2 linked regions of the Homo sapiens genome follow. The protein of the gene in region 2 purifies or fractionates together with the protein of the main gene of each other region. This does not show direct contact. Each region holds a gene or a part of one and is shown on either strand. Other genes may lie near its edges.

What was found.
Region 1: the proteins of PCDHGB6 (region 2) and OPA3 purify together in Homo sapiens (affinity purification with mass spectrometry; one large-scale study listed by BioGRID and IntAct). This does not show direct contact.

Annotation. Positions count from the first base shown.
Region 1 is NC_000019.10:45,578,024-45,581,849, forward strand, and holds part of OPA3 (optic atrophy 3 protein), read right to left. Parts: intron 1-3,826. UniProt on the Homo sapiens protein: May play some role in mitochondrial processes.
Region 2 is NC_000005.10:141,415,475-141,418,229, forward strand, and holds part of PCDHGB6 (protocadherin gamma-B6 isoform 1 precursor), read left to right. Parts: coding exon of another isoform or gene 1-254; exon of another isoform or gene 255-1,977; intron 1,978-2,202; exon of another isoform or gene 2,203-2,385; coding exon of another isoform or gene 2,386-2,755. Other genes in the region: PCDHGA10 (protocadherin gamma-A10 isoform 1 precursor), read left to right, coding at 1-137; PCDHGB7 (protocadherin gamma-B7 isoform 1 precursor), read left to right, coding at 2,386-2,755. UniProt on the Homo sapiens protein: Potential calcium-dependent cell-adhesion protein. May be involved in the establishment and maintenance of specific neuronal connections in the brain.

The sequences.
Region 1 (3,826 bases), on a different chromosome or scaffold from region 2:
GACTGACACAGCAAAAGAGATCTAACTTGACTGACTCCATCTTACTTCCAACCTCCAAGCTGTCCTTGTTCATTCCTGAGTGAAGGCTGAACTAACTTTGGGAGAAACTTAGTTTATAGTTTAAACAAACATGGTAACAGCCCTTTCCCAAAGCAGACCTCCTTCTTGCCTGGTGACTAGATTGCCTTTGTAGGACTAACATTAGCCACAAGATTAGAAATTATGGTTTAGGAGTCATGCAGCTGGAGGATACAAGATTCTGACCCTCCCTAAACTGCTCCTAAGATCAGTGCTTGAGATATTCTGCAGACTCTGCACTTGATGGATCAGCTGGCCCCACCCAGATCAAAAAATTGGCTCATCTGATCTTGTGCCCGCCCTCCCCCTCCCCCACCGCCACCCAGGAACTAACTGAGCACAAGACATCTCTGAATTCCTATGATTTCATCTCTGACCAATCAGCACTCCTGGCTCACTGGCTTCCCCTCACCCACCAAGTTATCCTTAAAAACTCTGCTCCCGGGCCAGGCGTGGTGGCTCATGCCTGTAATCCCAGCACTTTGGGAGGCCAAGGCGGGCAGATCTCCTGACGTTGGGAGTTAGAGACCAGCCTGATCAACATGGAGAAACCCCATCTCTACTTAAAATACAAAATTAGCCGGGCGTGGTGGCGCATGCCTGTAATCCCAGCTACTCGGGAGGCTGAGGCAGGAGAATCACTTGAACCCGGGAGGCGGAAGTTGTGGTGAGCCAAGATCACACCATTGCACTCCAGCCTGGGTGTCGGAGTGCGACTCTGTCTCAAAAAATAAAATAAAATAAAATAAAACAGAACTCTGATATTGTCCTTCTGCTGCACAGAACCCTCCAGTAAGTCCTGTTCCACTCAGAGTAAAGCCAAGGCATTTGCAGTGACCCACAGGCCCCATACAAACTGTCCCCCTTTCCCGTCATCAGTTTCCTCTGTCCTGTGTGCCAGGCACGCTCATGCCTCAGGTCCTGTGTGCATGCGGGATCCTCTGGGCTGGAACGTTTCTTCCCCCAGATGGCAATGCTGCTCGTTCCCTCCCTCCTTGGCATATTTTCAGTGAGTTCTCCCTGACAATCCTATCTAGGCTTATAGCCTTCCTTTAAATACTCCTTGTTCTACAACCCTGATTTTTTTCCTAGAGCAATTATTGCTATCTAATATACTTCATCTTTTAACTATTTTTTGAGATGGAATCTCACTCTGTCACCCAGGCTGGAGTGCAGTGGTGCAATCTCGGCTCACTGCAACCTCTGCCTCTTGGGTTCAAGTGATTCTCCTGCCTAAGCCTCCTAAGTAACTGGGATTACAGGTGCCTGCCACCACACCTGGCTAATTTTTGTATTTTTAGTAGAGATGGGGTTTCACCATGTTGCCCAGGCTGGTCTCAAACTCCTGACCTCAAGTGATGCACCAGCCTCAGCCTCCCAAAGTGCTGGGATTACAGGCATGAGCCACTGGGCCCAGCCAACTATTTATTTCATTTATTGTCTGGCTTCCTCCACAAGAATGTAAGGTACCTGAGGGCAAGATGTTTTGCTTTTTCCTGCCTGTTGTATCTATAACATCTACGTGACAGCCATGACCCTATGCCAGGCACTGACTTAACATTTTATATCCATTTACTTAATCCTCACCACAACACAATAAATATTATTTACAGCATAATGCATACATAGTATATACACAAAATAATAATAATAATAATAATAGTATCTACCTCATCATAACTGGTGAGGACCCAGTGCCAGAGGCTGGAAGGTGCTGCAGACAAGCCGTGGCACAAAGTACAAGCCCAGTTAATGTGACCATTACATAATACCCAATGTACAGAATCGGAAATTGAAGCTAAGAGGGGCTAAATGACGTACCCAAAGTCACCAGTCTGGGTAGGGATTCAAACCTATGTCAGTCTGACTCCAGAAGCCATTTTCTTTCTTTTTTTTTTTCTTTTTTTTTTTTTGATATGGAGTCTCGCTCTGTCACCCAGGCTGGAGTGTAGTGGCACGATCTCGGCTCACTGCAACCTCCGCCTCCCATGTTCAAGTGATTCTTCTGCCTCAGCCTCCCGAGTAGCTGGGATTACAGGCGCGTGCCACCACGCCCAGCTAATTTTTGTATTTTTAGTAGAGAAGGGGTTTCACCATGTTGGTCAGGCAGGTCTTGAAATTTGACTTCGTGATCTGCCCACCTTGGCCTCCCAAAGTGTTGGGATTACAGGCGCGAGCCACTGCACCCGGCCTTTTTTTTTTTTTTTTTGAGACAGAGTTTCACTCTTGTTGCCCAGGCTGGAGTGCAATGGCGTGATCTCGGCTCACTGCAACCTCCACCTCCTGGGTTCAAGCGATTCTCCTGCCTCAGCCTCCCGAGTAGCTGGGATTACAGGCATGCGCCACCACGTCTGGCTAATTTTGTATTTTTAGTAGAGACGGGGTTTCTCCATGTTGGTGAGGCTGGTCTCTAATTCCCGACCTCAGGTGATCTGCCTGCCTCGGCCTCCCAAAGTGCTGGGATTATAGGTGGGAGGCACCGCGCCCAGCACAGAAGCCTATTTATTTATTTATTTATTTATTTATTTATTTATTGAGACAGAGTCTCGCTCTGTCGCCCAAGCTGGAGTGCAGTGGTGTGATCTTGGCTCACTGCAACCTCTGCCTCCCAGGTTCAAGCAATTCTCCTGCCTCAGCCTCCCAAGTAGCTGGGACTACAGGTGTGCGCCACCACACCTGCCTAATTTTGTATTTTGAGTAGAGACAGGGTTTCACCATGTTGGCCAGGCTGGTCTTGAACTCCTGACCTCATGATCCACCCACCTCCGCCTTCCAAAGTGCTGGGATTACAGGCATGAGCCACTGCGCCCAGCTCCAGAAGCCATTTTCTAAACCACAACGCTAAGAATGTCACAGTGTTTGGAAGACAGGCAGAGACAGGAAACAAACTGGGTCTAGGAATTCAGTGTCCAAAGTTTCGCCTCTGGCACAAATCTCTGCGTATGACCTGAGCAATTAACTGCTGCCCTCAACACCTCCATTTTCCCTTCTATAAACCAGAGGAAGTCATTCCTCTTTCCGGACATGGGGACAAAACAGTTGTGGGGGTCAAATGAGATGGCTAACAGGAAAGCACTTTGGTAACTGTGAAATCTAATACTTTCCCATTCTAAGAGCTGCAGCCCCAACAAAGACCCCACCAAACACCGAACAACCAAGAATTCCGGGCCCTGGAAAGCAAACTTTAAGCATCCAAACTTACAGAGGGGGAAAAAAAGTGCACTCCCTTAATCATGTGGGCTTTGTGTGTGCTCCTCCCTCTGCCCCAGTGCTTTCCTTACGCCTTGTCCTGGTGTTGTCCTCACCCTTCAGGTCCCAATTCAGATGTCTCCTCTGCCAGGAAGCCCTCCCTGAACCCCATGCCATGTCAGGTGCCCAGTGGGCTCCCCCATCTCAGCTCTGCCCACTGTTGGGGGATACGTCTGTCCCCCGCAGGACTAGGAATTCCTTGAGGGCACAGATTGGTGCTGGTTTGGTCCCTGCTGTTTCGCCAGCATTGCCAGCACAAGGCCTGGCACAGGGCAGAGGCTCACAAAATACCAGCTAAAGGAAATAATGAATGGATGGAGGGATGAATGGTGTGTAACCGCCCAAGGAGTTCACCTTGCCCGCTGCCTAGACAGAGCTGATTCATCAAGAGAGGAGAACTGCAAGACAAAGAGTAATTCACGCAGAGTTGGCTGTGCGGGAGGGTGTTTTGTTTGTTTGTTTGAGATTGAGACAGTCTTGCTCTGTTGCCCAGACTGGA
Region 2 (2,755 bases):
CGCGAAAGAGTCACCTGATCTTCCCCCAGCCCAATTATGCGGACACGCTCATCAGCCAGGAGAGCTGTGAGAAAAACGATCCTTTGTCTTTGTTAGATGATTCGAAGTTTCCTATAGAGGATACCCCATTGGTTCCAGTGAGTTTTATTTTCATTTTTACTTTTGTTAAAAAAAAAAAGATTGGTTTTTACTTTGAAGTTTGCGGCATGATGGTGGAAAGTGTAAATGCTAAAACACTGATGAGTAGAATTTGATGTTTATTAAGGTTTTTTTTTTTTTTTTTTTTTTTTTTTTTTTTACTTTCTGGTAAAATTCACCTAGTCTCAATCAAGGCCTATATATCATAAGGCTTTGTTATGATTAGCTTTGCAGAACCTTGTAGTTTATAGTGTTGTTGAGTACAATATTGACAATTCCTAAGACAGACTTCCATACAGAAGTGCCTGTCAATTTATATTTCCTCCTGGGTGGTCACATATTGAAACTCCAGCCCCTTAAGCAACCCTCTTGTTCTGAAGGCAGGTCTGGTAAGAATAGGTAAGTATCAGAAAGAAATCACCTCTGGAAACACAACCCAAATCCAAGAATACTCAATGCAGTTCTTCCCAAGGAGAAGGGCAATAGGCCTTTTTCAAACTACATTTTATATATTTTTCAATCTATACTTTGTGGTGATAGTTGCAGTTGAATATACTAAGTTTTTCATTAATATTGAATTAACAATTTATTTATAACAATGTATGCTTAGATTTTTCCAGCCCTATTTATAACTGATAACACTGCAGTATCCTTTTTGCATACAATTCTCTAATTTCACACTGCTATGTGGAAGATATAGCATTTTAATTTAACTTTCATTGCTCAATAGGGATCCTGAGGAGGCTATAGAGGGTGAAATTAAGAATATTTGGGATTCTGCTTTTGTCTTTTTTGTTAAATTTTCTAGTGACTAAGGCTGAAAGTAAATATGGGTTGGGAAGACAGATAAATTTGTACATGTTCCCGAGAACAGGAGCAAGAGATATATGACAAAGCTATTTCAGTGGCTCTTTAATGTATAAGGAGGCAAACACCTGAAACTCTGAAAACTCTGAAATTGAGAGGCAAAATAAACTTAGAGTCAAGAAAGAAATGCCATTTCTGCAGATCAGAATATAAACACCAACCACAGCTGTAAAAAAGAAAAGAATATATGCAACGAAGGGAAATTATATAAACAAAGGATCATTGGAGGTACTGATGAGTTCATTTAGTTCAATGAAAATAGTGACGTATTAGGTAGATCTCTTAATTTTATTACTAGTATTCTACTAAATGTGGTAGTATAAAGTCAAAAAGCATTCCGAAGTTTCTCAAGACCCTTATAATTCCATGATTTTTTTCAGGTCAGTCAACATTTGTTGAATGATAGGTCTGTGGAAGGAAAGCACACTCTTTAGGGTCATAGTTATTAACTATTAAACCATTGAAACTATTATTTTATATTTGTGTTAATGAGAGTCAAAATTATTGTGCATTCATCTCAAATAATTCTATTATTTTGAAAAATACAGGTTTTTTTTTTAAAAAAAACTGCTCTTGACATTGTAGCTATTGTGAGAAAATATTTTGATTATAATTATTTAAAAGCAATACAGGACACCCTGGATGATGGTAATGACTAGGGCAATGGTTGCATTCCAGTACTTAAGTATGAAATAAGGAATTATTACTTTCTGGGTGAATATAGGCTAGAATTGAAGACAAAAAAATTTGTTGCTTATCTTCAGTACTTCCAGCTTCATAGATAATTACTCTTAAAAGGAACAAGAATGACTGCCTCTGGATGGAGGAATTGGATAGCAATGGGCCGTGGGATAGGAGACCTATAAACCTTCATGCTATATTATTTTGTGCCTTTTTAAATTTTGAAGAAAAAATATTCATTTATTCAAGATATATGTAAATTCAGTAAATAAAAAGATATGATAGTTATGACCAAGTGGAAATATATTTCCTGATGTAAAAGGAATCACTGAGGAAAAAGATTAAAATATTTTGGCTGTCAACTCGTAGTTTAAAAAAAATTCCTTGAAAGAGGTAGAGAAAAGTCAAGTTGCAGTCCCACACAGAGCCTCTGGGCGCCGCCGTCGGCCAGTGCAGAGCAAGCGCTGACGCCGGGGATCCCTCAGCCTCTAGCCTGGGATTCCCTGCGCAGCCAACAACAGAAAAGAAAACCAGCTCCCACACAGAGGCTCCCGGCTGCGCAGACCTTGCCCAGCACACCAGATTGCCAGCTCCGAGACCCGGGACTCCTCCTGTCCTGGGCCGAATGCTCTTTTAGCGCGGTAGAGTGCACTTTCTCCAACTGGAAAAGCGGGGACCCAGCGAGAACCCGAGCGAACGATGGGAGGGAGCTGCGCGCAGAGGCGCCGGGCCGGCCCGCGGCAGGTACTATTTCCTTTGCTGCTGCCTTTGTTCTACCCCACGCTGTGTGAGCCGATCCGCTACTCGATTCCGGAGGAGCTGGCCAAGGGCTCGGTGGTGGGGAACCTCGCTAAGGATCTAGGGCTTAGTGTCCTGGATGTGTCGGCTCGCGAGCTGCGAGTGAGCGCGGAGAAGCTGCACTTCAGCGTAGACGCGCAGAGCGGGGACTTACTTGTGAAGGACCGAATAGACCGTGAGCAAATATGCAAAGAGAGAAGAAGATGTGAGTTGCAATTGGAAGCTGTGGTGGAAAATCCTTTAAATATTTTTCATGTCATTGTGGTGATTG